Regions from separate parts of the Homo sapiens genome. Here all the other regions are linked to region 2. Evidence: fine-mapped expression QTL. A gene starts in region 2. Each other region holds a variant in brackets. All regions are shown on one strand. Distances are between the middles of the regions.

Region 1 (10,089 bases), 35 kb after region 2:
ACTTACAGGAAATGAGGCAGGAATCTAGTTCTACAAACGCAGCATCAGCCACACAGAGGAATTTAGGGAATAGAGACAGGTTGTCATGGTTTGAGGCTAGGATTTTAATTCCCATGTAGGGATAGAAGATGAACCTTTCAGTCCTGTGTGAAGCAGGAAGTGAGAACTGAAGCGCCTGCCTAAAGGTGGAAATGAGCAAAGGCTGCCCTTCTGTTGAATGAAAAATAGAAAAACTACCCATTAGCCAAAGAAAGCAGTAAGGAAGTTCATCCTTGCATGGGGTTCTGTGTGGAAATGAAAAGTATCTCTTGAGAAATCAGAGCCAAGGCTGTGTCACACACAGATGTAGATATAATTTTTTTTTTTTGAGACAAAGTCTCGTTCTGTCACCCAAGATGGAGTGCAGTGACGTGATCACAGCTCACTGCAGCCTCTACCTCACAGGCTCCAGCGGTCCTCCCACCTCAACCCTCTGAGTAGCTGGGACTACAGGCATGTGCCACCATGCCTGGTTAATTTTTGTATTTTTTGTAGAGACAGAGTTTCACCATGTTGCCCAAGCTGGTCTCAAACTCCTGGACTCAAGATCTTCCCTTTTTGGCCTCCCAAAGTCCTGGGATTCCAGGCATGAGCCACCATGCCCAGCCTAGATACAAATTTAAATGTCTTATGTGTTTATGTAATAAGGGAATCCTGAAAACATAAAATAGAAACTGATCCGGGATGACAAAACCTATGAAGCCCTAACATATGTAGTTGCAAAAATACCTAGAGGGGAATATCCACAACCAACTACAAAAATTAGCCAGGTGGTAGTGGCACGCGCCTGTAATCCCAGCTACTGGGGAGGCTGAGGCAGGAGAATCGCTTGAGCCTGGGAAGCAGAGGTTGCAATGAGCCGAGATTGCACCACTGCACTCCACCCAGTCTGGGCAACAGAGTGAAACCCTGTCTCAAAAAAAAAAAAAAAAATTCTAACGAGAGCCTGGAGAGCCTGTCTCGCTCGTTCTTATGCACGTCATTCACCACCCAGCATCGCCTCCGCTGCCCCTTCCCCTACCCTGCCCCAGGCTTTGCTGCATAGAGCAGCAGCAATGATTAGCTTTGTTAATGTGTCAGAAGCATCCTGAAAGATGACAAAACTTCCAGGCAGGAGATAGGAGGAGGAACTTGAGATCTCTTGATACTCTTAAGGTCCAGGTAGAACAGAGAAGTAGGGCCTCATTCTTAATCCTAAAGAGAAATATTTAGAGGCTGAAGATTAAACCAAGACCTTATTACCTGTATCTTTTGGTTAAAGGTGCTGTCTTTATTATTCTGAAAATACTATTCATTTTGGAGAATCTGAGTATTAAACAACAATATGTTCCTTAGAACTGCCTGGGCATGGAGGCTCATGCCTGTAATCCCAGCACTTTGGGAGGCCAAGGTGGGCGGATCACTTGAGCTCTCAGGAGTTCAAGACCAGTCTAGCCAACATGATGAAACCCCAGCTCTACTAAAAATACAAAAATTAGCCGGCCGTGGTGGCACGTGCCTGTAATCCCAGCTACCCGGGAGGCTGGGGCATGAGGACCGCTTGAACCCAAGAGACAGAGGCTGCAGTGAGACAAGATTGCGCCACTGCACTCCAGCCTGGGTGACAGAGCAAGACTTCATCTCAAAAAACAAAACAAAAAAAAGAACTGTCTTAACTACAGCCCTCAACATGATAAATACCAATTTTTTGGTTTTTGTTTGTTTGTTTGAGACGAAGTCTTGCTCTGTCACCCAAGCTGGAGTGCGGTGGCGTGATCTCGGCTCACTGCAGCCTCCGCCTCCTGAATTCAAGCAATCCTTGTGCCTCAGCCTCCGGGTAGCTGGGACTACAGGTGCACGCCACCACGGCCAGCTAATTTTTGTATTTTTAGTAGAGCCAGGGTTTCACCATGTTGGCCAGACTGGTCTCAAACTCCTGAGCTCAAGTGATCAGCCTGCCTCGGCCTCCCAAAGTGCTGGGATTACAGACACGAGCCACCGCACCCAGCAAATAAATACTATTTTAATACAGTGTTTTTTCTTAATCCTGGAAATGTTAAGTTCATATAATGTTTTTCAAATTTATTTTATAAATTATATGTAATATTCTTCTGTAATACACTGAGGGGGTTTTGCTGGGTTTTTAAATTTTATTTATTTATTTTTTAGAAACAAGTCCTTACTCTGTCACCCAGGGTGATCATAGCTCACTGCAGCCTCAACCTCCCAGGCTTAACCAATCCTCCCACATAGCTGGGACTATAGACACACCACCACGCCTGGCTAATTTTTCTTTTTTTGTAGAGATGTGATCTTCCTGTGTTGCCCAGGCTGGTCCTAAACTCCTGGCCTCAGGCAATTCTCTCACTTCAGCTCCCCAAAGTGCTGAGATGATGGCACTGGCACCCAGCATATACTTTTTTTTTTTAATGTGCAACTTCTTTCCTATCTTTGTGTTAAGGATAACATATGTTTAGCTAAGGAAAGACTAGTACTGACATGTTTAAAAAAATTGTCCCAGCTGGGCGTGGTGGCTCATGCCTGTAATCCCAGCACTTTGGGAGGCCGAGGCGGGCAGATCACAAGGTCAGGAGATCGAGACCATCCTGGCCAACATAGTGAAACCCCATCTCTACTAAAAATACAAAAATTAGCCAGGCATGGTGGCACATGCCTGTAATCCCAGCTACTCAGGAGGCGGAGGCAGGAGAACCCCTTGAACCAGGGAGTTGGAGGTTGCAGTGAGCCGAGATCGTGCCACAGCACTCTAGCCTGGCAACAGAGCGAGACTCCGTCTCCAAAAAAAAAAATTGCCCCAAATTACATATGAATGGTTCCTCTCTTCTCCAAGAGGAACACCAAGGTTCCTTTCTTCTCCCATTCTTGATGCAGAAGTCCGCCCCTCTGGCATGAGATACCCTGATCTGCCCCCACGGCCAGGTTTCTTCCACAAACCGCATACTAATAATTTCTTTTCTCTGCCTATCTCCAACCCCTGTCCTCCCCCTAGCTCATTCTCACGTTTCCTATTTTGAATGACCCAACCTTTAGGCCTGCCACTGGCACCACCAACCTTGTCTAGTCCACTGTATAAAGTTTTCTGGCCCCAACAGATACCAATACCACAGCTGGATACCTTTCCCCAAAATAGTTTTTAATAACAGTAGAGTCTATATTGACTAGCTGTAGATATCGCTGATTTCCATGGTTCACTGAGAATTCTCCCATAGTTTCTCTTAAGGGTGAAGAGGAAACTACAGAAAATGCTGCTCATGTTTATATCTGACTTGTATGTATGGTAACCTGAAGCTTGGGCTGTCCATATCGACAGCTTTTTCAAATGCAAAAAGTATGCCGAGATTCCAAATGTCACCAGATTCATGTCGGTTCCTCACATACACCATCACAGTTAACACTTCAGTTGCATCAGGTGTTGTGATAAGCTCTTCATGTAGATGAACTCATTCTGTCCTCACAAAAGCCCTGGGTTCCCAGACTACGACGGTCCCCATCACACAGAGGCAGTGCACGCAGCCCAGGTAAGTGCAGGATCTTTCCCAGGACACACGTGTAGACAGTAGCAGAGCCAGGTGTGGCCCCAGGTGGAGGCTTAGTGTTAAAATCTACATCACATATCAGCATTTCATTTCCAGCGCTTGGAAATTAGCAATTTGAAATTATTTTTGAAAAAACAAAGTGTGTTTTCTTTGACACAAACATCTGATCTGATCTGCTTGAAATCTGCAGCGTGTTCCACATTTCTGGGTGGTGGTTTAAACATTCACTATCTTTGAATTTGCAGGCCCAAGAAGTTACTACCAAAAGCTTTCAAACAATATTGGTTTATCTTTAAAGACACATCCATAGCATACTTTAAAAATAAGGAACTTGAACAAGGAGAACCACTAGAAAAACTAAATCTTAGAGGTAAGAGTACCCTATATCTTGCTGTGGCTCATCGTAAGTCAGGGCAGACGCGGTGGCTCAAACCTGTAATCCCAGCACTTTGGGAGGCTGAGGCGGGCGGATCACCTGAGGTCAGGAGTTCGAGACCAGCCTGGCCAAGATGGTGAAACCCCATCTCTACTAAAAATACCAAAATTAGCCAGGCGTGGTGGCACATGCCTGTAGTCCCAGCTACTTGGGAGGCTGAGGCAGGAGGACCACTTGAAGAGGTGAAGGTTGCAGTGAGCCGAGATGATGCCACTGCACTCCAGCCTGGGTGATAGAGTGAGACTCTGTCTCCAAAAAAAAAAAAAAAAAAAGAGGTGAGCAGATTAAAGTCAGGGTTTCGACACCATGAGGCACGGTTTACTTACTTCTAGAGGAACCACCAGAACCAGTGTCACTGTTTTCCAAATGACAGCCTGGCTGCAGCTGCTCTTCCAAGCATGAGCCTTGAATGCAGTCTAGTAAACATGATTATTTGCATTCTGCTGTTCCATCTTTCTCAGTGTGTCCAGAGTTTATGATGTGGTGGTAATTCATGTCCAAGAGTATAGCACATGAGGTGCTGTAAGATCCTGAAAAGTTTTCTGTATTCCAGAACAGTTATATTTAATTCAGTGTCACTTTAATGCCTATTCTAATTTCTGAAGGTCACTGTGAGCGTCCTGATAACCATCTATTAATTGAAATATTTAATTAACCAGTACACTCAACTCACATTATTGTGACAATCAGAGAATTCCTTCTGCTTTGATTTATTTTAAAGTTCATATCCACAATTTTTTCTATGAGTTTGGAGAGCCAGCATTAACCTGAAAATGAACTAAATTGACTTTTTAAGAAAACTGTAAAAGAAAAGCATTTTTCTTTATCTATGTTAATTGTTCATAAGATTTATCTAATTATCCATTAATTAATGTTATCAGCTTGCTCCTCCATTTTTCAAAACCAAAGCAAATCTGAGGGGCTTGTATTCAAAGTCTTTATTTCAGATACACACCTGATGTTTATCTAACAGATGCCTCAGAACTCAGTTTTGTCTCTGATCTTTGTCCTTCAGGCTGCGAAGTTGTGCCCGATGTAAATGTAGCAGGAAGAAAATTTGGAATCAAGTTACTAATCCCTGTTGCCGATGGTATGAATGAAATGTATTTGAGATGTGACCATGTGAGTAAAACCCCAAAAATATTAAGTCACTTCACCTCCACTAAGCCTAAGAGCAAAACCCAAAAATGTTTTCACAAATTTAGAGCACTATTGTGTCACTCAGCTATTGCTTTGTAACAAACAATCACAGTGTAACAAAATCACAATGACATTCTAACAATAAACATTTGCCATGCAGTGGCTCACACCTGTAATCCCAGCACTTTGGGAGGCCAAGGTGGGCAGATCACCTGAGGTCAGGAGTTCAAGACCAGTCTGGCCAATATGGTGAAACCTCATCTCTACTAAAAATACAAAAATTGGCCAGGCATGGTGGTGGGTGCCTGTAATCCCAGCTACTTGGGAGGCTGAGGCAGGAGAATCACTTGAACCCAGGATGCAGAGTTTGCAGTGAGCCAAGATGGCACCACCGCACTCCAGCCTGGGTGACAGAGCAAGACTCTGTTCCCCCAGAAAAAGAAAAACAATAAACATTGTTTTCTGAAAGATGTGCTGAAAGGTAGGCTGGGGATTGGATGATCCAGGATGGTGTCAGCTGGTCATATGGGTTTGGAGACACAGGTTTGGTGGGACTGTGCCTCTGGTTGAGCTGATTTTATTTATTCTGGGTCCCAGGCTGCCTAGGGAAGGTCTCCTCTTGGTGAGGGCAGAAGTGTGAGAGGGCACGTAGCAACACATGCACCTCCTAAAGCTTAGGCATGAAGTTGGCACACTGTCACTTCCACCCACATTCCATTGGCCAAAGCAGAAGACATGACTGAGCCTGCAGTCAAGGGATGGGAATTCCTCCCTGGTGGGAGGAACTGTAAAGTTATATGGCGAAGGTTGTGGATGGCAGTGGTGGGGGGTGTATTAGTCCATTCTCACATTGCTATAAAGAACTACCTGAGACTGGGAGAGAAAAGAGGTTTAATTGACTCCTAGTTCCACAGGCTATACAGGAGGCATGGCTGGGGAGGCCTCAGGAAACTTACAATCTTAGCGGAAGGTGAAGGGGAAGCAAGCACATCTTCACATTGTGACAGGAGAGGGAGAGAGTGAAGGGGGAAGTGCCACACACTTTTAAACCATCAGATCTCATGAGAACTCACTCAATATCACAAGAACAGCGAGAGGTATATCTGCCCCCATGATCCAATCACTTCCCACCAGGTCCCTCCCCCAACACTGGGAATTACAATTCAACATGAGATTTGGGTGGGGACACAGAGCCAAACCTTATCAGGGGCAGTGAAGATTGAGGCCAGTAATTCAACGTTCCTCACCCACTGTTGCACTGAAGAACGCCCCTCTTTAACTGTATCCCTTGCACTTCTGAGGACCACCCCTGTTCACTCCCTGAAGTCAGAAATAAAACACAGAAATTAAACAGCAATAGAAGCCACCACTGACTTGTTAAGATCCCATAATGGCCATGATTGCTACCTTAGAGTTAGAGTCTTTACCAAGGATAGACCAGGATACAAATAATATAGGAAATCAGCTAATTTTTTTCATCATTTTCTTTTGGGCGTAGAGACCAGATGTGATATGAAAACAGAAATACATATCAAGGAAAGCTGACAGTTTGCGGTTTCACCACCTATCTGTGCCCCATGGCACTTCTTTGTGTCCTTGGACCTTTTTTTTTTTTTTTGAGATGGAGTCTCGCTCTGTCACCAGGCTGGAGTGCAGTGGTGCAATCTCGGCTCACTGCAA[C/A]CTCCACCTCCCAGGTTCAAGTGATTCTCCTGCCTCAGCCTCCCAAGTAGCTGGGACTACAAGTGCCTGCCACCACGCCTGGCTAATTTTTTTGTATTTTTTAGTACAGATGGGGTTTCACCATGTTAGCCAGGATGGTCTTGATCTCCTGACCTCGTGATCCACCCGCCTCGGCCTCCCAAAGTGCTGGAATTACAAGTGTCAGCCACCACACCTGGTATTTTTTTTTTTTGACAAAGTATTGTTCTGTCGCCCAGGCTCGAGTGCGTTTGTGCAATCTTGGCTCACTGCAACCTGCATCTCCTGAGTTCAAGGGATCTCCTGCTTCAGCCTCCCAAGTAGCTGGGATTACAGGCATCTGCCACTACGCACAGCTAATTTTTGTATTTTTAGTAGACACAGGGTTTCACCATGTTGGCCAGACTGGTCTCGAACTCCTGACCTCAGGTGACCCACCCACCTCAACCTCCCAAAGTTGAGGATGACAGGCATGAGCCACCGCACCTGGCCCTTGGATCATCTTTAAATGCAAATTCCCTGCATGCAATTTATCAAAGTTGACATTCCTATCCTCTAGCCTCCCAGCATCTAGAAACTCAACACAGGACTCAAAAACTACTGTTAGGTGTTACATTAGCTGATGAGCAGCCACTCACAACGTGTGCCACTTCACATCTTGCTTGGAAGGTGATGGTTTTGCACTGTAATGGGGTAGAAAGCCCAAGTCCCCCTCTGTGTGCAGCAGGGGGCTTTGCACTTGAGCTTGCTTCTCAACCTTCTGTTTGCTGCAGGAGAATCAATACGCCCAATGGATGGCTGCCTGCATGTTGGCATCGAAGGGCAAAACCATGGCAGACAGCTCCTACCAGCCAGAGGTCCTCAACATCCTTTCATTTCTGAGGATGAAAAACAGGAACTCTGCATCTCAGGTGGCTTCCAGTCTCGAAAACATGGATATGAACCCAGAATGTTTTGTGTCACCACGGTGTGCAAAAAGACACAAATCCAAACAGGTACTGTTAATCTTGTTAGGGCAATTGTTTGCAGTAAATTCTTTATGCAAACAGAAATAAAAGGAGGATTTCCGGCTGGGCATGGTGGCTCACACCTGTAATTCCAGCACTTTGGGAGGCCAAGGTGGGTGGGTCACTTGAAGTTGGGAGTTCAAGACCAGCCTGGGCAACACGGTAAAATCCCTTCTATACTAAAAATACAAAATCAGTCAGACGTGGTGGTGCACACCTGTAATCCCAGCTACTTGGGAGGCTAAGGCAGGAGAATTGCTCGAGCCCAGGAGGTGGAGGCTGCAGTGAGCTGAGACTGCACCACTGCACTCTAGCCAGGGCAACAAAGCAAGACTGTGTCTCAGAAAAAAAAAAAAAAGGAGTAATTCCATCTAATTAAGAGTATCATCATGAAAAAATCAGTTGATGCTGAAATTTGACTATGTCCTGAATATTAGATGATGTTATGAAATTATTGTTAATTTTGTTAGAGGTGACTGTACTGCTGACTAAACATGTAGGTATTCCCAGATTGAACTTATTTAGTTCTCACAAATTAATAATTAAAATTATGCTTCTATAGGAGTGGGTTAAAAGTTGCACAGATGAGCTGATTCATGTAGAATCATTGTCTGTGGACACTCCACAGACCTCAGACAGAGGGACCCCAGAGCTCTCCAACTGCACCAACTTTAGAAGTTTATGTGTTGGGTGATCCTTTTCCTGCTTCTTCCAGTGATTGTTGTATCTTGTAGAAAAAGAGAGAGAATGAATGGATGAGAATGGATTGTCTTTGTAGAGCTGCAGACGGACCTTGAGTGTATTGTTCTTATGGGGGATCTGGAGCTAACAGGGTGATCACAGAGCAGCCGGTGCATGTGAAGAGAGGTTGATGTCTGTTTCTGTTCAGCTGGCCGCCCGGATCCTGGAGGCGCACCAGAACGTGGCCCAGATGCCCCTGGTCGAAGCCAAGCTGCGGTTCATCCAGGCGTGGCAGTCACTGCCTGAGTTTGGCCTCACCTACTACCTTGTCAGGTGATTACAATGTTCACTTGTTTCTCACACTTTCCATTCAATTTTAAGTGGCTTTTGGGGAGCCCCAGTTTTCTCATTTAGCATAGAATATAGAATGCTTTTTATTTGAGAATATTGCCCTTTTATAAATAGTCCTGACACTTTGGGCTGCTCATAAACATTTTCCATACCTTCTGTTCTAAGTTCCAATACCCCTGAAACTCAGCTAAATGTGGGAAAGGAAATTTTAAAAGGAGGGTTTTTTTTAGGATAACTACATTTCCAAAACCAGAGGGTAAACATCACATATTGATTTTATGAAATCTGTAACTTCTTTTCGGTTTTTTTTTTTTTGTTTTTTTTTTTTAAGAGATCGGGTGTGGGGAGGGTGGCCGGGGGGGGGGGTGTCTCATTTTGCCGCCCAGGCTGGTCTCGAACTCCTGATCTCAAGCAATCCTCCCACCTCAGCCTCCCAAAGTGCTGGGTTTACAGGCATGAGCCACCACACCTGGCTACGACTTTCTTTCATGTCAGCTTCCTCCTTTTTGTGTCTCATAGTGTCTCGTGGTGTGGCTTTGCAGAATTGTTAGGTTTTTAGAGAGGTCCCCGCAAGCTCTGTCTTATTTCTACCCAGGTTTATCAGGTAGCAACCCTGTTCTCACTGGTCTCTGAAGATTTCTGGGTCTGAAGGATGCATAGGAGGCCCATCTATTGCCCCCAGAAAGACAGCTTAAGTGACTTGTCCAAGTTCACCCCCAGTCCAGGGCACACTTGGCATAAAGCCCTGCATCCTCATTTGTTATCCCCGCCTAGCACTATGGCTCTGCCCCACTGTATACAATGGATGGTTTCCCAAAACATATCCACAAGCATGCTTGTAAATCAAATTACATTCTTCAGTTCAGAAAAGGAGACTGATGCTTAAGCAAAATCTACCCCCAATCCTACAGTACAGCAAGTACTGTCACTTTCTCATCTTATAATTTCGGGGTGGGATAATTGGTTTGTATTTTTAATCATTGGCAGTTTTTGTTTTCTTGGCCCTTTCCAAAGACTCCATTCCTCCATTACTTCTAACAGGGGAGTCTATTCAGACTTTCCAGCTGGGCGCGGTGGCTCACGCCTGTAATCCTAGCACTTTGGGAGGCCAAAGTGGACGGATTGCCTGAGCTCAAGAGTTCAAGACCACTCTGGGCAACGTAGCAAAACCCCATCTCTACTAAAAATACAAAAAAAAATT
Region 2 (10,089 bases):
ACCATAGTCATTCCTGACACCACTCACATCAGAAAAGATGGAAGCTCCAAGTACATCCTGTCTCTGCACCTCACTCACTTTCAAATTAAAGTCATTCCTGAGTATCTGAATGACACAGCCTAGGTCATAGGCCTGTGCCCTCGCTGCAAGCGAGGTTGGGAATTTGAGTTCTGACTTCTAGACTGGGATTAAGACATAAAGATTTCCACAAATATTAAGGAGGCCATTCCAAGGATGATGGGCAGCCATGAGTATGACTGATATTTGCTACAATCATCAAGATATTTTCAAGTTAGAAAAGCAAAATGCAGAACAATATGTATAGACTACTATCACTTGCATAAGAAGCAGAAATTGTCTACATGCATAGACTATCTCTGGAAGGTTTCAGGGGAAACAGGTAACTATTATCTCTAGGGAAGGGAACTCAATAATCAAGGATGGGAGGAAGATTTAATTATCACTGTATACTCTCTTGTACCCTTTGATTAAGAAGGATGCAATCTAAGGAAGGAGAACAGGGGATGGAGGAGAAGAGGGATGGAAGGAGGGAGGCACTGTGTTTCTTGCTTCTCTCATTCTCAAAGGTGGGCTCCAGCATGGCCCCCAGCAAAGCCATTTTTACTCTTCTTTGCTCTTTGTCATTCAGCCCTGTAAGTACATTGAGACACACCCTTTTCACCCTGGCAAGGAGAAAACTTTAGAACTTGCCTGGGCATAGAAAGTGCTCATTATCCATCCAGTTGGGGAGGAGGGTGTAGCAATAATAGGCACATTCTGCTTCTTTGCACTCAGCAAAATGTATTCACTGCACACGTGAACACAGCTGCCATTTTGTATGTGCCAAGGACTCAATGCAAATAAAAATATATTTTAGGTGTCTGTTGCCGTTTTGAAGTCATCAGACTTCTAGCAGGTTTATAAGCTGAAAACTTAATAGAGAACTTTATATTGGGTAAATATTTATCAAAATCATCAATCAGGAAAAAAAAATCCACTTCTTTTCTCCTTCAAGCAGCTTTCTTATTCTACCTAAATTAACTCTATAGAATTTTTAGCAAAAAGGTGCTAGAGGAAAAAATCATTTGTGTTTAACAAGTTAAAGCAGCAGAGACTTTCAAAGTTCTCTACTCATTTATTTCCCTTTTGTGTTCAGTGAATACGGAATATGGCCACATCTCTCATTCAGTCTAATCTACCCATACCCCAGACATGACATGACTTACTTTTTTTTTTTTTTTTTTTTAACTGAGACAGGGTCTTGCTCTGTCACCCAGGTTAGAGTGCAGTGGTGCAATCATGGCTTACTGCAGCCTGGATCTCCCAGGCTCAAGCGATCCTCCCACCTCAGCCTCCCAAGTAGCTAGGATCACAGGCACATACCACCACACCCAGCTAATTTCTATTATTTTAAAAATTTTTTTCTTCAACTTTTATTTTAAGTTCAGGGGTACATGTGCAGGTTTGTTACGTAGTAAACATGTGCCATGGTGGTTTGCTGCACAGATCATCGCATAATTTTTATGATTTTTTGTTTTTTGGTGGAGATGTGGGTCTCCTTATGCCGCCTGAGCTGGTCTTAAACTCCTGGGCTCGAGCAATCCTACTGTCTTGGCCTCCTAGGTGTTGAGATTACAGGCCTGAACCACCACACCCAGTTGATTTACCTTTTTGAAGGTACTAGTTCAAAGGTGAGTTTATCAGTGTATGGGTAATTGACAACAGATTTTTTTTTCAATATTTGCAACTTGAATGTATAAGATTTCAAAGTCAAGAAATAGAGCTTCTCTTTATCTTCCACCCTTCTGCTACCTGAAGCGCAACTATCTGCTAACTAAAAAAAATATATTAATACCTTAAAACAGTTCTCTAGAAACCTCAGGTTATTATAAGAAACTATGAAGCTCTTATCCAATGTTTCAAATTCCATCTCAAAAATCACCTCCTTTCTGAAGCCTTTTCTCATATTCCCTGCCACTCCAAACACCTGGCAGAAGTAGACACATTCTTCTGTATTCCTTAGCATCCCTCCTATCATCTGAAGACAAAGTGCGTGCCCAGTTAATCTGAGTATTTTCAACATATATTACGATGTCTAGCTCACAGTAATACAGTGACTAGCAAATAAATAATCCATTGCTGATTAATATGTATGAATTAATTAAATAACAGACTCAGTGAATTGATTCTGCTTGTTTTTTAAGGGGGCAAAGGGTGTGCTTTTTTTAATATATATGTACAAAATTTTGAAGTTCAGAATACACTTTTTAACCCACTTCTAACCCAGGACCTTGGGGGATGGGTTGGACCTGTGTCACACAAACGACAGTAACCGTGTAATAAGTAAAACATAAAGTTAAATTAAAAGCCTAGGACAGCCGGCCATGGTGACTCACACCTGCAATCCCAACAATTTAGGAGGCTAAGATGGGAGGATGGCTTGAGCCCAGGAGTTCAAGACCAGCTCAGGCAGCTAAATTTAAAAATTAGCCAGGCACGGTGGTTCACACCTGTAGTCCCAGCTTGGGAGCCTGAGACATCAAGGCTGCAGTGAGCCATGATCATGCCACTGCACTCTGACCTGGGGGAGAGCAAGACCCTTTCTCAAAAAAAAAAAAAAAAAAAAAAGCCTAGGACACATAATATGGATAAAACTCACAAACATAATGTTGAACACAAGAAGCCAGACACAAAATAGTGCACATGGTCTGATTCCATTTATATAAAGTACAAAGACAGGCAAAACCCTTCTGAGGAGTTAGAAGATAAGATAATGGTTATCCTGGGCCTGGGGTCGGGGGTAGGGGCAGGCAGCGGCAGTGATCATAACTGAAAGGAATAACTAAAAGGGGTCACTAACGGGCTTCCGAGGACTGGTGATGTCCTGTTTCTTCAACTGGGCACTCTTTATACGCTAGTGTCTTTATATACTCTGTATACAGGTGTGTTCAGTTTGCGAAAACTCATCAGCTATACATTCACGATTTGTGCTCTTATCTATATATATTGTGTATATGTATGGGTGTGTATATATATGATACACATTTATATACACACAAGTCACTACATAAAATTACAAGTTTAAAAATTAACCTAGGCCAAGAAGAACGCTTAAAACCAGTCGAATTCTTTAGCACAATGCAGATATTTTCAATTGAAAAGAGAAAAACCATATTGGTATGAATAGATAGAGCCATAATTCAAGGTCACACATAAAATCTTGACCACAGGCTGGGCACGGTGGATCACACCTGTAATCTTAACACTTTGGGAGGCCGAGGCAGGTAGATCACAAGGTCAAGAGATCAAGACCATCCTGGCCAACATCATGAAACCTGGTCTCTACTAAAAATACAAAAATTGTAGTCCCAGCTGCTCGGGAGACTGAGGCAGGAGAATCACTTGAACCCGGGAGGCGGAGGGTGCAGCAGTGAGCCAAGATCGTGCCACTGCACTCCTGCCTGGGGACAGAACAAGACTCCATCTCAAAAAAATATATGTGTGTGTGTGTGTGTGTGTGTGTGTGTGTGTGTGTTTGTGCGCGCGCGCGCGCGCGCACTGACCACAGTCTAAGTTCTAATGGGCCATAAGCAGGGTTTCATGATGTTAAGAGGTAGGGAAGTGGGACCAGATGACCCTTCCCATCGTTGACAAACGCTACCAAGTGAAGACATTCTGTTTCAAGTTTTTAATGATTTTATTTCAATTATAATATCCTATATTTGCCAACAATGTTCAACTAACCTTTTTAAATTAAATGTACTTTCAAACCCATAATAATTCCTGAATATGGTAATGTTTAAGCGAAAACAGATTCAACTTCTAAATTTTATAACTTCTTTATTAAAATTTAAGTGTTCACAAGCCTTTTAATGCAAATCGCTAAAGCCTGTACTATATTGCATGAAATCCCTCCGTGGAAGAGCACGCATTCTATCTCTGTACCTATTTCACAGATGAGGAAACTGTCATTTCCATGTCTGTTTTATTAACCACTGTATTCTCTGAGCCCAGGCCCATTGGGAGGCCTGTAGAGCAGTAAGCACTCAACAAATGTGATTAAATGAACAAAGGAGGCTTGGAGAGGTTGTGTAAACTGCCCAGGTCACCCACCCTTCCTGGGTGGCCCCAGCCCTCTTTGAAAATAAATCCAACAGGAAGGCGACTGGCGGGACCGGTGGTGATCCTGAGGTGAGCCATACCAGGTGTGGCCCAGACTTCCGCATGCAGCCTGCCCTTGGGTCTCCTGGAGTCTCCCCTGGTCGGGAGCCTCAGCCTTCTGGAGACTGACACCACCCTCTTACTCAGAGACGAATCGTTTTGTCGTTGCCTTCACCTCCCTGACCACAAGTGCTCCGGGGCTCTTTCTGAGGGAGGCAGCTGTTCTAGGCGGGAGGCTGGAGTCTCCTGGGCCTGGACGCACCCCGGGGTGTGAGTGATGGGTATGCCTGAAAGGAGGGGAAGTGGCGCGGCTTTAATCATCTGGGCTAGTCCCCGGCGGGCCTGGGGGAACAGGGAAACTGGAGGCGGCCTTAAAGCGTCAGGATGAGACATCGCAAGAGGAGCTGCAGATACTGAGCGTGCGCCCCGGGTTCTCGCCGCCTTCTCTCCGCCGAGCAGCCCTTCGGCCACCCTTTGCCCTTAAAAATCTGCAGACTGCGCCTCCTCTCCGCGGGAGCGAGACCTAGCAGGCCCGGGGCTGGGCGTGCCCTCGCCTGCCACGCTGCGCGCTGCCCTCAGCCGGGCCGCTGGGGCCGTGCAGTGCACCGGGCACGCCGCGCCAGGCTGGGGGCAGGCACCGAGCCTCCGTGGGAGGTCCCGAGGCAGCTTCGCCTGCTCGCCCTGGCTCCAGCCCTCACCTGCCGCAGCCTTAGCTGAGCAGCCGCCGCCACTGGGCGCCCCCCGCTCCCCACTTCGCCAGCGCCCGCTCCTCGGCTCGGCCCGGGGTAGTTTGTAGGGACGCAGCTCTCCACGTGCGCGACTGCGAGGCTGGACGCTACGGGCTCCTGGAAAGGAGGTGGGTGCTCCGGAGCTAGGGCTGGGGAGCTAGAGGTTGGGAGGCTTTCATGGGCACCAGTGGCTCCTGAGCCCCCTTAGCCCCTTTCTTTCTGCAGCCTCTTGTACTTAAATAGCTGTTGATTGAAAATAATTTCGTCTGGATGTGACCACCTTCTCCGGCCCTACGCATCTGGCCGCAAAATAAACTTTCAGTTCAGCCGCAGGTGCTGCCTTAATGGGAGTAAGGGGCATGCTTTATCCACCCAACATCCGCCCCAGGATCCTGCAGAGCTGGCAAAAGACAGGTCGGGTGGCCTTCGAACACCAAGCACCTTCAGATATTCCAGGGGAAGGGTCGGGGACTGTTTCCCCCTCATCTTTCCTCCTTCCTGCTCTCCATCCCTCCATGCTTTCGTTTCTTTGACTGTCTGCGAAGGGCTTTTCAGCACTCTGCCAGTAACTTTGCTTCTTGTTTTGGTCTCCTTAGATGCGTTTTCCCGGCTGAAGTTTGCTGCTATCCTTGACAAGTAACAGCTTGCTGCAGACTAGACGTTCACTCAAAAATGAAGGCACAGAAAGATAGGAAAGGAATGCAGGAAAACCAGCTTGGCTAATTTTAGCCTGCATTTTGTTGTAAGGGGAATCAGCATCTATTGCCTGAATGAGTAGTGTTTTGATCACCCAAGTTAGGAAAAGACCTTATATCAGATTGCCCAGTGAAATAAGCAGTAAGGAATCACCTTTAAAAGTTATTTTCTTTATATACAAAACATTTTAAATAACTAGACTTCACAATTATAGCATTTAAGAAATTGTAAGGATCTTAAAGTCGAACAGTTCAATGCCAAGTTATGAGTTTGACGATGAAGGGGCATCTTTTGTCTCCTCACTGCGCAAGATTTGTGTTGATAGAAATGCTTAGTAAAGGCTACTGAGAATTTAGTTCACGTAGTTTGAGGAGTTTTCTTTCATTTTGGCATTGCAACATTATCAAAGTGGTTTCCCAGTGTGGTGAATAAGAGTTTGAAATAGAAAGGCAGACCTGGATTTCCACCTGGGCTCCAGCATCTAACTTGCTGTGTGACCTCAGGCAACTTGCTTCATCTCTCTGAGGCTGAGTTTCCTCATTTCTAAATGAGATTGCTGAGAGGATGAAAAAGGGATAACAGAAGACAGGAGTTAACACAGAGCACATCATACAGTCAGTAGGTAATAAATGATACCTGAAGCTGATGATGACAGAGGCAAGCAGTTAGGCCTAATGCAGTCACTGAGTGGCACTCCTCATGCAGAGGGTTCTGTGTGGATCTCTGTGCATGGGGAGGAGATGCATTGCATCGTTGCATGCTTCTGACTATAGAAACATAAGGAACGGCTGGGCGTGGTGGCCCACGCCTGTAATGCCAGCACTTTGGGAGGCCAAGGCAGGTGGATCACGAGATCAGGAGTTCAAGACCAGCCTGGCCAGCATGGTGAAACCCTGTCTCTACTAAAAATACAAAAATTAACCGGGCGTGGTGGCACACGCCTGTAATCTCAGCTACTTGGGAGGCTGAGGCAGAGAATTGCTTGAACCCGGGAGGCAGAGGTTGCAGTGAGCTAAGATCATGCCACTGCACTCCAGCCTGGGTGACAGAGCAAGACTCCATCTCAAAAAAAACAAAAACAAAACAAAAACATAAGGAGCTACTTCTGAACTCTTGAATTTCATCCTCACCCATAAAATCTGTCCTAAATCTGTTCAGATTTGCAGTATTCAATTTATCTGTGTAGCGTATTTTGAGATTCTCTTATGCTTACAAATGAGTCGTTTCGAATGAACATGCAGAACAGATATGACACTGGTTGTTTAATTATTATTAAAAGTAATGTTCCTCGGATATTACCATCATCCCTGGTTTAATATTGATCTAAATAGGTTGAAGGGAAGAACTGAGTATACCCACAGACCAGCAACATCTGGAGCCTGTTAAGAAATGTATGGCCCCTCCCTAGACCTGCTGAATAGAATCTGCATTTTAATAGGATCCCTGGGGGATTTGTGTACACCCTCAGAGAAGCCCTTTCTTAGGAGTTTGAGTGCATTGATGTTTCTTAAAAATAGGCCTTATGAAAACATGAATTTCTCATAAGCTGGCTTTACATAGTAAAGTGAAAAAGACTCATTATCATTTAAATAATTTTTACTTTAAATGTTTAAAACAGCCAGGAGCAGTAGCATTATTTCTTTCTGTTTAAAAGTAAGAGAGAACTGACATCTCAAGTTTTGTTTCAGTTCTGCCAATTTGGATTCCAGTGTTCCAGTTACCCCCTGAAACATTTCAGTTGTGAACGTTCTTTCCTGCTAGCTTCTCCCATGAGGGGAAAACGATGGGTTTGAAATTCACATCCCTATCTGTACTTTGAAGAGTGAGCTTTTTATATCTGTTACTCCTGTTTTTAAATCTTTTGCCAAAGATGTATCCAAATTTTTAATTGGTGCATTTATAATCAATTTTTATATGACATAGAACAATAAGTAAATCGAATACATGGCAATAATTATTAATGACCTGTATCTATATGTATTTAAGGTAAAACTATATATTATAATGACTGAAATAGGAATTATTTTGCTTTTTTTTATTTTTTGAGCTTTATTATGGGAAGATATACATTTTTGTAGGAGGAATGTAATAATATACATATATTAAAGATATTAAAGATAAGAGGCTTTAATGGCATCCTTTTTAAACATCAACTTTATTGAAGTATAATTTGCATACAACAAAATATGTTGAACTATAGTATATAAAATCTGCGCATTTTATTACATGCAAATTATACCTTAATAAAATTGATTTCTTTAAAAGATAATATGGAAGATTGCCTATTGCCAGAATAGTTGAGAGAAGGTCAAAAGAAGTCAATAGAGAGAAAATGAGGATTGAAGCATTGGGTGGACGAAGGAAATACATAGCCAAGTGGTCTTGGAGAAGTGGGTGAATGGAAAAATGAAGTATGTAAATTTAGATGATTTGAGACCATTTTTATAAAACTTTTTGTCTTCAAAGTTAAGATGCCAAATTTGATATCTGGAGCACCTGGAACCTTGCAGAGTGTTTTGAAGAGGAGGTTACAATGAAAAACAAAACAAAAAAGAAATTTTGCTCTGCAAGTCTACTGACAAGTCCCGTTTCCTTCCCACATTCCAATCTATGTCTGCCTTTTTGTTCAGCAGACACCAGCATTTGCCACAATGCTGTCATCCACTGACTTTACATTTGCTTCCTGGGAGCTTGTGGTCCGCGTTGACCATCCCAATGAAGAGCAGCAGAAAGACGTCACACTGAGAGTATCTGGAGACCTTCATGTTGGAGGAGTGATGCTCAAGTTAGTAGAACAGATCAGTAAGTTACTCTTGCTTTACGGTTTCTCTGTATTAGAAACCCTGTCTGGTGCATCACCACTAATGGCTGGTGTAGGTTTTTCTGATCATTTATCTTGTAATGCCCTGGAGAGCAATCCCCCACCCCTCATCCCAGAGGAGAGAAAGAAATAGCCCAGGCTGGGTGCCGTGGCTCACACCTGTAATCCCAGCACTTGGGGAGGCCAAGGTGTGCGGATCACCTGAGGTCAGGAGATCAAGAACAGGCTGGCCAACATGGCGAAACCCCATCCCTACTAAAAACACAAAAATTAGCCTGGCGTGGCGGTGGGTGCATGTAATCCCAGCTACTCGGAAGCCTGAGGCAGGAGAATCGCTTGAACCCGGGAGGCGGGGGTTGCAGTGAGCCAAGATCGTGCCACTGCACTCCAGCTTGGGTGACAGAGCAAGACTCGGTGTCGGGGGAAAAAAAAAAAAAACCTTGAGTCTTTGGTGGCAAGCTAAATTTCCCAGTAGGTATAATGCTGGACTTCAACAGGGATGGGACCCATTCCACCGGTGACATCTAATGTGACTTTAAGTAGCTTGGCATTAGACTACTGGGTTAACTCTCTGTTAATACTTGAGAGCTTAGTGATAAATTGGTGCTGAGGAGTTTTTCAACACTTATCCACCGTTTACTATGCTCCCTGTTTAAACAAAGAAAGAAATCTTCAGGGTTACACTCTTCACCTTGTAGCGTGTCAGATGTCAACATTATCAACCTAGAATTTAATAACATTCTATTTTCTTTGTGCTTCTTTTGCCTTCTATTTAAGGCCTTAGATGCGGGCTTTTCATTTGCTCTAGCAAGATAGTTTTTTTTTCAGTCCTTATTGACTGACATATAATATACATACAGAAAAATTCACTTATTATAAACAAGGCTTCACTTATCATAAACAGTTCAATGGATTTTCACAAAGTCTTGTAACCACTCAGATCACGAAATAGAACATCAGCTGTTCCCCACCCAAGCCCCATACCCCGACCCCTCCCAGTCACCACTACCAAAGGTAACCACTGTCCTGACTTCTAACACCACAGGAATCATTGCTTGATTTTGAACTTTATACAAATGAGATTATAAAGGATATACTCTTACACATTGACTTTCTTTCACTCAACATTATATCTGTGAGATTTATCCATACTGTTGCATATTGTTTTGGTTCGTTTTCATTACCATATAATATTCCATTGTATGAATATGCCACAATTATTTATCCATTTACCTCTTAATGGACATTTGGGTTGTTTACATTTTCATGCACTTACAGAAAAAGCTGCTGTAACACCTGTCTTTCAGAGATCATTTCTGTTGGGTGGTATAGTTCAGAGAAAAAAAATGCTGATTCATAAGGTTTTCCAAAATAGTTGTGCCAATTTATGCTTCTACTAACAGCATTAAGAGGAGCATTTTCTGGCTGAGAGCAGTGGCTCACGCCTGTAATCCCAGCACTTTGGGAGGCTGAGGTGGGTGGATCACCTGAGGTCAGGAGTTCAAGACCAGCCTGGCCAACATGGTGAAACCCCATCTCTACTAAAAATACAAAAATTTCCTGTAATCCCAGCACTTTGGAAGGCTGAGGTGGGTGGATCACCTGAGGTCAGGAGTTCAAGACCAGCCTGGCCAACATGGTAAAACCCCATCTCTACTAAAAATACAAAAATTTCCTGTAATC
Region 3 (10,089 bases), 47 kb after region 2:
TTCTCAATCTCTACTCACCTTCTTGGGTTCAGCCATTCTTTTGACTTCATTTATATGCCAATTACTCTGAAATATATATCTTGAGCCCAGAACTGTCTCTTGAACTGGAGATTCATAAATCCAGTGACCCTTGGATATCTAATGAGCATCTCATCTTTACATGTCCAAAGTTCCGGATCTTCCCCCTAAACTGGCTCCCCGCTACATACTTCTTCATCTCAGTAGAAGGCAACTCCTCGCCCTAGATGTTCAGGCCAAATCCTTTGGAGTCATTCTTGACTCTGCTCTTTCTCTTACACCAACATCCTGCCCATAGGCAACTCCTAGTGACTCTACCTTCAAAGTACACACAGAATCCGACCACTTCTTCCGCCTCCTCCTCCACCACCACCATCACAGAGCCGGTCCAGAGTGATCCTGCTTGGTGTTCCTGCCTCTACCCTGATCCCACTAAATTTTCAACTTAGCAGCCAGAGGGATCCTTTTAAAATCTAAATCAGATTTTGTGAAGCCTCTGCTCAAAACCATCTGGGACAGGTGTGACAGCTTATGCCTGTAATCCCAGCACTTTGGGAGGCAAAGGCAGGAGGATTGCCTAAGTTCGGGAGTTCAAGACTAGTCTGGGCAACATAACAAGACCCTGTCTCTACAAGACACACACACACACAAAATCTGAAGGATTTCTTATCTCACTCAGAGTAAAAGCCAGATCCTTACAGTGGCCTACAAGACCTTTGCTCTTGAACTCACATTTCTCTCCCCTCCTTCACTGTGTCAGCCACATGGGCCTCCTGGCAGGTCCTTAAGCACATTAAAAAAAAAATTTTTTTAAGTGGCTGTGCCCTCTGCCTGGAATACTCTTTCCCCAGATATCCACGCGGCTCACATCCTCATGCATATCCATTTTTTGATCAAATGTCACCTTTTCACTGACCTCCCTGTTTCAAACTGTAACCACCTTATTACCAGTATTCCCTGTAGCCCTTCCAACTTTATTTTCCTTCATCTTATCTGGCATATGTACCTCATACTTATGATCTTCTCCCTCCCACAGTCAGAAATTTTCCATCCGTTTAGTTTACTACTATATCTCCCATGCCTAGAAGGGTGCCCAACACAGAGTCAGTAATCATTTTGAATGAATTTATTTGATTCCATCTTATTTTTCTTCTCTCTGATGTCAGTTTTACTTAAAGACCATCTGCAGGATAGCCTTCATTCTTTTTTCACGCTGTCTATATCCCAATAAAAATGCCCCCCTGCAGAAAGTTAATTCTTCATTGTCCATTCCTCTGAAATGATTCAGAAATACTGGTAGTATTTTTAAGAAGTTATATGTGAGTGAACATTGTATTATAGGAAGCAGTTGCTTCTCTTAACTAATATTATGATTCTTTTCAGATTTAAAGGAAGCAAAAAAGATGACATTCTGGGAGTTTCATATAACAGGTTGATTAAAATTGATGCAGCCACCGGGATTCCAGTGACAACATGGAGATTCACAAATATCAAACAGTGGAATGTAAACTGGGAAACCCGGCAGGTAAAGTGAAAGTTTTTGCTCTTCAGTGTTGAGCCTATAAATGTGTGTCCCTCAGAATTGCAGATTATTCTGAGTTTTAAAAGGTGTTCTTCTATTTAGACCTAAGAAACCACAAGCATATGGTAACTGTCTGTCTGCTAAAATCATCATATGCAATTCTGGGCAGCTTCCTAACAGGCACAGGCCAAATGCTCTTGCATTAGCACTGCAAGTTGGCTTAGTCTCCATGCAGACTTTCAATACAGACAGGTTCTGAAATCGCTGAGCAGTTTCATTAATTTTCATTGACTCAGCATAGGATTATACAGGATTTAGCTTGATACTTACTTATGAGAAACTACTGGAGATGTAACTGCTATGCAAAATAAATCCAAAAAAAGCCTCATCTGACTGGCTGCCAAGAAACCCGATGGAGGACTGGAAGATTCAGTTGCTCACCTGGAGAGCATTCCAGGCCCAAAAGGGAAAAACTGCTGAAGAAGAAAGTGAGGTCCATAGTGATGACTGAGAAAAGCTTCACCTCTTAAAACCAGGAGCCCTCAAACCCCTAGCCTATGTTACAGCCTCCCATCATCTCCCATCCTAGGAGCTAAGTTCAGGCCAAGCCTGTATCATGGAAAATTCCAGATGAAGTTAGAGGCAGCTTAGCATCCTGCCGCTAATTTAAAACATTCTGCCCAGTGCTTTGGGAGGCCGAGGTGGGAAGGATCACTTGAGGCTGGGAGTTCGAGACCAGCCTGGGCAACATAATGAGACCCTGTCTCCACAGAAAATTAAAAAAAAAAAAAACAAAAAAAAAAAACGCTGAACTAGCCAGGTGTGATGGTGTGCACCTGTAGTTTCAGCTACTCAGCCAGGGATGATCAGTTGAGGTTCGAGGTTACAGTGAGCAGTGACTGTGCCACTGCACTCCAGCCTGGGTAACAAAGCAAGACCCTGTTTCATTCATTCTTGAATTAATTAAAACATTCAGATGTTGCTGATACAGACTCAATCTTCCCTCATTCCTTTGGCATTCTCATTTTCCAATAGAAAGTCACTGACGTAGAGGGATGGTAAGAGACCCACACATTTGTTAAGAACCCTGACTTCCTCTCAGCAGTGTTGATAATCATCTGGGTGCTTATTTGTAAAATCAAGTTCAGAGATTAGATGACCTCTAAGGCGGTAGCTCTAAAGCCTTGATGCGTATTAGGATCACCTGGGGAGCTTTAAAACACCACTGCCTAGACCACACCCAAGGCCAGTTAAATCTGAATCTCTGGGAGGAGGAACGAACCATTAGTAATTTTTAAAGGTCCACAAGTGATTTCAATGGGCAGCCAAGGTTGTGAACCAGCAAAGTCTCTAAGTCTTTCTTCTAGTGCTTAGAGTTTATGACTTGCAGCTAGGAAAGGGTTCCGGGCAGTGGCTGTAGGAAAATTCAGGCAGACTTTTATTCATTAAAGAGCCTGCAGGCCGGGTGCAGTGGCTCACGCCTATAATCCCAACACTTTGGGGGTCCGAGGCATGGATCACTTGAGGTCAGGCGTTCAAGACCAGCCTGGCCAACATGGTGAAACCCCCGTCTCTACTGAAAATACAAAAATTAGCCAGGTGTGGTGGCACACACCTGTAATCCCAACTACTTGGGAGGCTGAGGCATGAGAATCGCTTGAACCTGGGAGGCAGAGGTTGCAGTGGCCCGAGATCGTGCCACTGTACCCCAGCCTGGGTGACAGAGAGAGACTCCATCTCAAAAAAAAAATAAAAATAAAAATAAAGTGCCTGCGAAGCACCCTGCCCCTCAACACAGGGAGACAGAGAGTGCTTGGGCAAAATCCTTGTATCTAAACTGTAGACAGAAAATGTGTTGGGAGTTTTTTTAACCAGACGTGCAGCAAAGTCGACACCACCAGAGGGCGCAAAGAGAGCAAAGATGTTTTCTGGAAGCGTTTAATGGAAGTGATGGTTTTCTGTGTGTTTTAGAGGGATATCCATCTGTTATCCACCTCAGCAGCCCTCAGCTCCAGGGGCCAGTCCAGCAAAGCACTTTTTTTTTCATCATTCCTTGTCAGAGTTTAAGCTTCTCTGTGCCTTCCTCTTCCAGGTGGTCATCGAGTTTGACCAAAACGTCTTTACTGCTTTCACCTGCCTGAGTGCAGATTGCAAGATTGTGCACGAGTACATTGGCGGCTACATTTTCTTGTCCACCCGCTCCAAGGACCAGAATGAAACACTCGATGAGGACTTGTTCCACAAATTGACCGGCGGTCAGGATTGAAACAAGCACGCGTGCTCGGCTCACACCAACAAGGCAAGCCAAAGGCGCCCCTCCCCAGAGGGATCCCTAACGTGCCCAGCATGTAGATTCTGGACTAACAGACAACATACATTCACCGCTGGTCACCCAGATCCTCATTCAAACCCACTGCTGGCACATCCCTTTCCTTACTTTGCCCTGTGCTACCAGCCACGGAAGGAGCCTCTCTTGTTTTTTCTATAAAATGGGTAGGCAGGAGAAAAGCAGGTGCCCTAAGATTGCTCTAAGGCCCAGCATGTGGTTACAGTTCTCTGACTTGCAGAACCTGCCAGGTGTATGGCTACAAGTTATCCTCGTGCTGATCTGTCTCATTACTAAGTCAATGGAGAAGACAGAAAGGTAAAAATCACGTGTAGCAAGAACAACTCTTATTTCACAAACTCAGGTATGAAACGAAACGCCTGTCCTTCATGGAACTGCTTTTAGCTCCTGTCTTTTCAAAATGGCAGAGGGAGTTCCTACACACACTTTTTCCCTGGAGGCCAAGGTCTAGGGGTAGAAAGGGGAGGGGTGGGGCTACCAGGTAGCAGTTGACAACCCAAGGTCAGAGGAGTGGCCCTCAGTGTCATCTGTCCACAGTGATACCTGCCAAGATGACCACTGACCCACATCTGGTCTTAGTCATTGGTCTCCTCAGATTTCTGGGGCCACCTGCAAGCCCCATTCCATTCCTACAGATCTCTCAGCCACCTGTAAGTCCTTTGTGAAGATGTGGGTGACACAGGGGGACAGGAAAACCCATTTCTCAACCCAGATCCATGTCTCCACTGCTTCTACTCTGGGTTGGGATTCAGGAAGACAGGCACAGTCCTCTCTGTTCATAGAAACACCTGCCAGTGTCAAGGATTCCAGTCAGGTGTCTATCCCAACTGGTCAGGGAGAGAAGGGCAGACCCATTCTCAAAGACCACCATGTCCAAGGTCTGACAGCTCCCCACTGGCTGCCCCCACAGGGGCTTTAGGCTGGTCTGGGTCATGGGGAAGCGTCCCTCTTATCGCTGGTCTGTGTTCTCCTGGATTTGGTATCTATGTTGGTACGACTCCTGGCCTTTTATCTAAAGGACTTTGGCTTTTGTAAATCACAAGCCAATAATAGACTTTTTTCTCCCCCTCTGT[T/C]TTTTGCTGTGTCATCTCTGCCTTGAGACTGCCTTGAGACAGTGCTTGCCTTGAGAGAGTGAGCCAATTAACAGCTGCCTGAATTGTCATTTTCCATTTTGGTTTGTTAGAGGTGGGAGGGGTGGGTTTTGAGAAGGTCAAAAGCAATACCAGAAGTAAAGGGAAATATCAGACAATATTTTATTATTTTTTCATAGATGTTCTGCCACACAAAGAACTTGGGGTGTAAGGATAAGGCAAAAGCTCCAATCCCATTTTTCAGTTCTCCTAGGATGCACCCCTCAGGGAGCCTGGCCAGAGTTCCGAGGCCCGTGAGCGTCAGCTGTTGCTTTATTTTCCATCAAAGCCCTCTGAGAAGTGAGACCTCAGCAATTCCGGGAGCCACATAGAGACAGACTTGGCAAGGGACCCCCTGGTTCTGAGCCAGTAGCTGCCATCTGGAAATTCCTCTTTTAGCCTCTCCTTAGAGGTGAATGTGAATGAAGCCTCCCAGGCACCCGCTGAATTTCTGAGGCCTTGCTTAAAGCTCAGAAGTGGTTTAGGCATTTGGAAAATCTGGTTCACATCATAAAGAACTTGATTTGAAATGTTTTCTATAGAAACAAGTGCTAAGTGTACCGTATATACTTGATGTTGGTCATTTCTCAGTCCTATTTCTCAGTTCTATTATTTTAGAACCTAGTCAGTTCTTTAAGATTATAACTGGTCCTACATTAAAATAATGCTTCTCGATGTCAGATTTTACCTGTTTGCTGCTGAGAACATCTCTGCCTAATTTACCAAAGCCAGACCTTCAGTTCAACATGCTTCCTTAGCTTTTCATAGTTGTCTGACATTTCCATGAAAACAAAGGAACCAACTTTGTTTTAACCAAACTTTGTTTGGTTACAGTTTTCAGGGGAGCGTTTCTTCCATGACACACAGCAACATCCCAAAGAAATAAACAAGTGTGACAAAAAAAAAAAAAAACAAACCTAAATGCTACTGTTCCAAAGAGCAACTTGATGGTTTTTTTTAATACTGAGTGCAAAAGGTCACCCAAATTCCTATGATGAAATTTTAAATTAATGGGCACCTTTCAACATCATTTGCTTCCTTATCTACAGTTGATTCAGAAATCTGCATTTTTTATTCTTTTATATGACTTTTAAGTAAAAGATTTATATGGATTTGAGTACGGTCCTGTTGTGTCCTCTCCAACCTACTGTCTCCAAAAAGGTGACTTTTTCCTCTCTTATGAAAAGGGACTGCAACTCTGAGGTCTAACATGTGTCTCTCCTCACAGCGCCAAGATTCCGGGTCGTTCCCTCCCGTGGTGTGGGGAGTGGCAGATTCCAGGGGTCCTCAGAGAGCCCCTTAGAAACCTCACTTACCCGCTGGTTTCAACTCCTTTCTCACTGACTTGGTCACAGATTTCCTGGCATATCCTGCCTTATCATGAGCTCTTTTGTCTCTTTCCAGTTCTATATTAAAACACACACACACACACACACACCAGCAAGCAAAGATCCCCAGCGGCAATAGAACAGCAGAAGCCTCTGATTCTGATGGCTGAGTGTTGAGGGCACTTTGCTTTAGTGACATGCAGTTTATAGATATCCCTTTGTGCAATTCTCCTGTCAGCCCACAGAGGGTAGAAATGGCTTCCTCTACAAAGGAGAAAGGTTCAGAAGGTGAACTTGCCCAGGGTCACACTGCCAATGAGCAGTGTTTGTCTTGACTCCAGAAGCCACTAAGCTTAACCCAGCAAACCCCACCCTTCCTTCCCAGCCTTGCCCAGCCTTGAAATGCCCCTTACCCTAGCTCCAGAGCAGGCGTTCCTGAGCTCAGGCTCATACCAGTAAGAGAGAACCAGGGGCATTAAGAGCAGTTAGCTGTGGGAGGAGAGGCTGGACCAAAAAGGTCTGGGAGCCAGAGAAATGAGGTGCTTAGAGTGTTGTTGTTTTTTTCTTTGTTTTAATTTTTGTTTTTGTTTTTTGAGATGGAGTTTCACTCTTGTTGCCCAGGCTGGAGAGCAATGGCGTGATCTCAGCTAACCACAACCTCCGCCTCCCAGGTTCAAGCGATTCTCCTGCCTCAGCCTCCCGAGTAGCTGGGACTACAGGCATGCACCACCACGCCTGGCTAATTTTGTATTTTTTTTAGTAGAGACGGGGTTTCTGCATGTTAGTCAGGCTAGTCTTGAACTCCTGACCTCAGGTGATCCGCCTGCCTCGGCCTCCCAAAGTGCTGGGATTACAGGCGTGAGCCACCGTGCTTAATTTTGGGAAAGTTTCATTTTTAGTCCCACGGTCAGAAAAGTAAGGAAATGAGGAAGCTTTAATTTGAAAACTCATTTAATACAAGAAGTCAAGATATTTTATAATATCTGTCTTCTAAAATCACTTTAAAATTTTATTTTTAACTCACAAGATTTATTTTTGGGGGCTGGGCATAGTGGCTCACCTTGTAATCCCAGCACTTTGGGAGGCCAAGGCAGGAGGCTTACCCGAGCCCAGGAGTTCAAGACCAGCTTGGGCAACACAGCAAGACCCCATCTCTACAAAGATTTTAAAAAATTAGCTGGGCATGGTGGCACATGCCTGTAGTCCTAGCTACTTGGGAGGCTGAGATGAGAGGATCCCTTGAGCTCCAGGAGTTCAAGGTGGCAGTGAGCTATGATCATGCCATCACACTCCAGCCTCAGTGACCCTGTCTCAAAAAAAAAAAAAAAAATTGGCTTCTACATTTAGTATCTCTATATTCATTTTAATTATTTTCTCACATAGCGTGACTTTCCTGCCTCTCCCCCTTCCACTCCTGTCACCCCAGAATCTCTCAGTGGTAGGAGACAGAAAGGGAACATTCCTCTTTGTTATTTCACCCATCTTTCCTTCTCATGCACCCTACAGCCAAGGACTCTTGAGTCCAGGAAATCATAGCTGGAAAATCTGAAAAACTGAAAAAGTGAAGCCCTTGGCCCTCACTTGCTTCAAAGTTTTTCCAATTCCTTGAACCTCACTGGAGTTGTGTGGAAATATTGAGTGCTATCAGAAAGAGGGGAGGCCGGGCACGGTGGCTCACGCCTGTAATCCCAGCATTTTGGGAGGCCGAGGCAGGAGGATCACCTGAGGTCGGGAGTTCGAGACCAGCCTAACCAAAATGGAGAAACCCCGTCTCTACTAAAAATACAAAATTAGCCAGGTGTGGTGGCACCTGCCTGTAATCCCAGCTACTCGGGAGGCTGAGGCAGGAGAATCACTTGAACCTGGGAGGCAGAGATTGCGATGAGCCGAGATCACACCATTGCACTCCAGCTTGGGTGAAAGAGCGAGACTCCTCCATCTCAAAAAAACAAAAACAAAACAAACAAAACAAACAAACAAACAAAAACCGAAAAGAAAAAGCTATCCTGACATTTGCACACACATCTCATGTTGCATCAAGACTCAGTGATTGGCCGGGTGTGGTGGCTCACATCTGTAATCCCAGCATTTTGGGAAGCCAAGGCGGAAGGATTGCTTGAGCCTAGGAGTTCAAGACCAGCCTGGGCAACAGCAAGACCCTGTCTCTATTTAAAATAATCATAATAATTTTTGTAAAGGCTCAGTTATCTCAGAGGAGTCCCAATTTTTAAAAAACCTGAATGAGAATGCTCCTGACTAACACCTGTGGGGAAGATTCTTTCCACTAAAAGGATTTACCTCTTTTCTCCAACTTACTCTGTGAGCTCCAAAAACACCCATAATTCCCCATGTGCTGCAGTGTCTTCAGTCATCACAGAGGAAAAGTCCTATAGCCGCTTCTCCCTAGCCACTGCAAATGACAAAAGCTGCATGGGGACTTAACAGGATAGTGTCTCTCTTCTTCACCCCTGGAAGTTGGGCGGGGAGGCCTCTGGCTGCCCTCTGACATCCCTCAGTTGCAAAAGTGGAGCGTGGAGAGAAGGCAGAGCCCTGTGTGAGAGGAGCAGAGGATCTGGGGGAGGGAAGGGCCCAACACCCCAAGCCTGTGCCCTCTGACTCAAGAGATGTGTTGATGGACATAAATGGGGCCGGTAACAGGGAAGGCAAATTAAGTTCAAAAATATAGACAGCTATGACTGCACCACTGCACTCCAGCCCGGGCGACAAAGCACGACCCTGAGAAAATTTTATTCTCTAAAAATAAAATTTTAAAATAAATATATAAATATATATATAATATAAATAAATAAATATATATATAAAACTGTAAGGAAAGAGTAGGGCTTGCAGCAAGGCCTGGGGTCAGGGCTCAGTGCATAGGCTCTATTGCTGGTGATGGGGTAGCTGGTTTGGGCCCAGCCCCTGGCTGGTAGGGGAGGCTATTGGAAGAGAGCAAAGACCTCTTCCAGGCAGTGCTACAGAGGTCAGGAGGCAGAACTAATGGTGGGATATTCTGGGAAGCCAGGAGGGCTGGGGATGAAGGTCTGACCAGGTGCTTACAAAGGGGCCCTGAATCTCTGTGCTACCAGCTTAATTTCCTGAAATGTCACTAAAGAACCAACATTATTGGCAGCCAGCCCAGCCCATGTGACCCAATGTTATTTAAAAAGAAAAAGAAAAATGTAGCAGAACCACTGTTACCTTTCTAGGAGTTACAGACATCCAACTTCAAAATAGAAACACCCTCATTGCTATTGAGGGTGAGATACCACGCATGAAACCCACGTGGACTGCAACTCAAAGTGTGGTCCTTGGCCCAGCAGCATTTGTCAGAAAGGCAGAATCTCACAGGGCCAGGACTAGGGTGGCACAGGTGAGGCATCCCGGGCACAGCATTTAAGGAGGCCCTCACTGTCAGGGTCGTACAGGGCACCTCCTCGGCTCACCCTAATCCCAGCTCTGAGGTCCACCCAGACCTTTCTGAGTCAGAGTCTGCCTTTTAACAAGACTCTCAGCGATATGTATGCCCAGAGGAGTGTAAGAAGATCTGGCCTTAGAGATGTGGCATGGATTTGGCAGGGAGGATACCAGACACCAGAGGAATTGTCAAGAAAGAGTGTAGATGCCATAAATTCTGCCAGCCAGTGTACTGAGTTAATGGTGTCCCCCCACATTCACATCTGCACAGAACCTGTGAATGTGACCTTATGTGAAAATAGGGTCTTTGCAGATGTAATCAAGTAA

Direction of the effects. Positions count from the first base shown, and alleles are read on the strand shown. Sizes are in standard deviations (SD) of each study's normalised expression. Not every link is listed here.
With allele T in place of C in region 3, the expression in subcutaneous fat of the gene that starts at base 4,761 in region 2 is higher (moderate effect, 0.58 SD a copy in FUSION).

What was found. PIP is the estimated chance that this variant, and not a neighbour inherited with it, causes the effect. A credible set is the group of variants that fine-mapping cannot tell apart.
Region 1: its variant is the best candidate, but not a certain one, in a credible set for the expression of FERMT1 in left ventricle (GTEx, PIP 0.68).
Region 3: its variant is the best candidate, but not a certain one, in a credible set for the expression of FERMT1 in subcutaneous fat (FUSION, PIP 0.84).

The regions. Positions count from the first base shown.
Region 1 is chr20:6,082,821-6,092,909 of GRCh38, reverse strand. FERMT1 (FERM domain containing kindlin 1) reads left to right here. Exons shown (of 15, transcript NM_017671.5): 10 at 3,821-3,945; 11 at 5,027-5,133; 12 at 7,623-7,844; 13 at 8,746-8,870. Among named protein-coding and RNA genes, the nearest start is that of LRRN4, 34 kb to the right of the region's middle. The variant C/A (reference allele first, on the strand shown) is at 6,832.
Region 2 is chr20:6,117,702-6,127,790 of GRCh38, reverse strand. FERMT1 (FERM domain containing kindlin 1) reads left to right here and starts at 4,761. Exons shown (of 15, transcript NM_017671.5): 1 at 4,761-5,017; 2 at 8,219-8,387. The coding sequence starts at 8,237. RefSeq lists a silencer at 4,756-4,875.
Region 3 is chr20:6,070,890-6,080,978 of GRCh38, reverse strand. FERMT1 (FERM domain containing kindlin 1) reads left to right here. Exons shown (of 15, transcript NM_017671.5): 14 at 1,402-1,543; 15 at 3,633-6,134. The coding sequence ends at 3,806. Among named protein-coding and RNA genes, the nearest start is that of LRRN4, 22 kb to the right of the region's middle. RefSeq lists a silencer at 6,545-6,694. The variant T/C (reference allele first, on the strand shown) is at 4,961.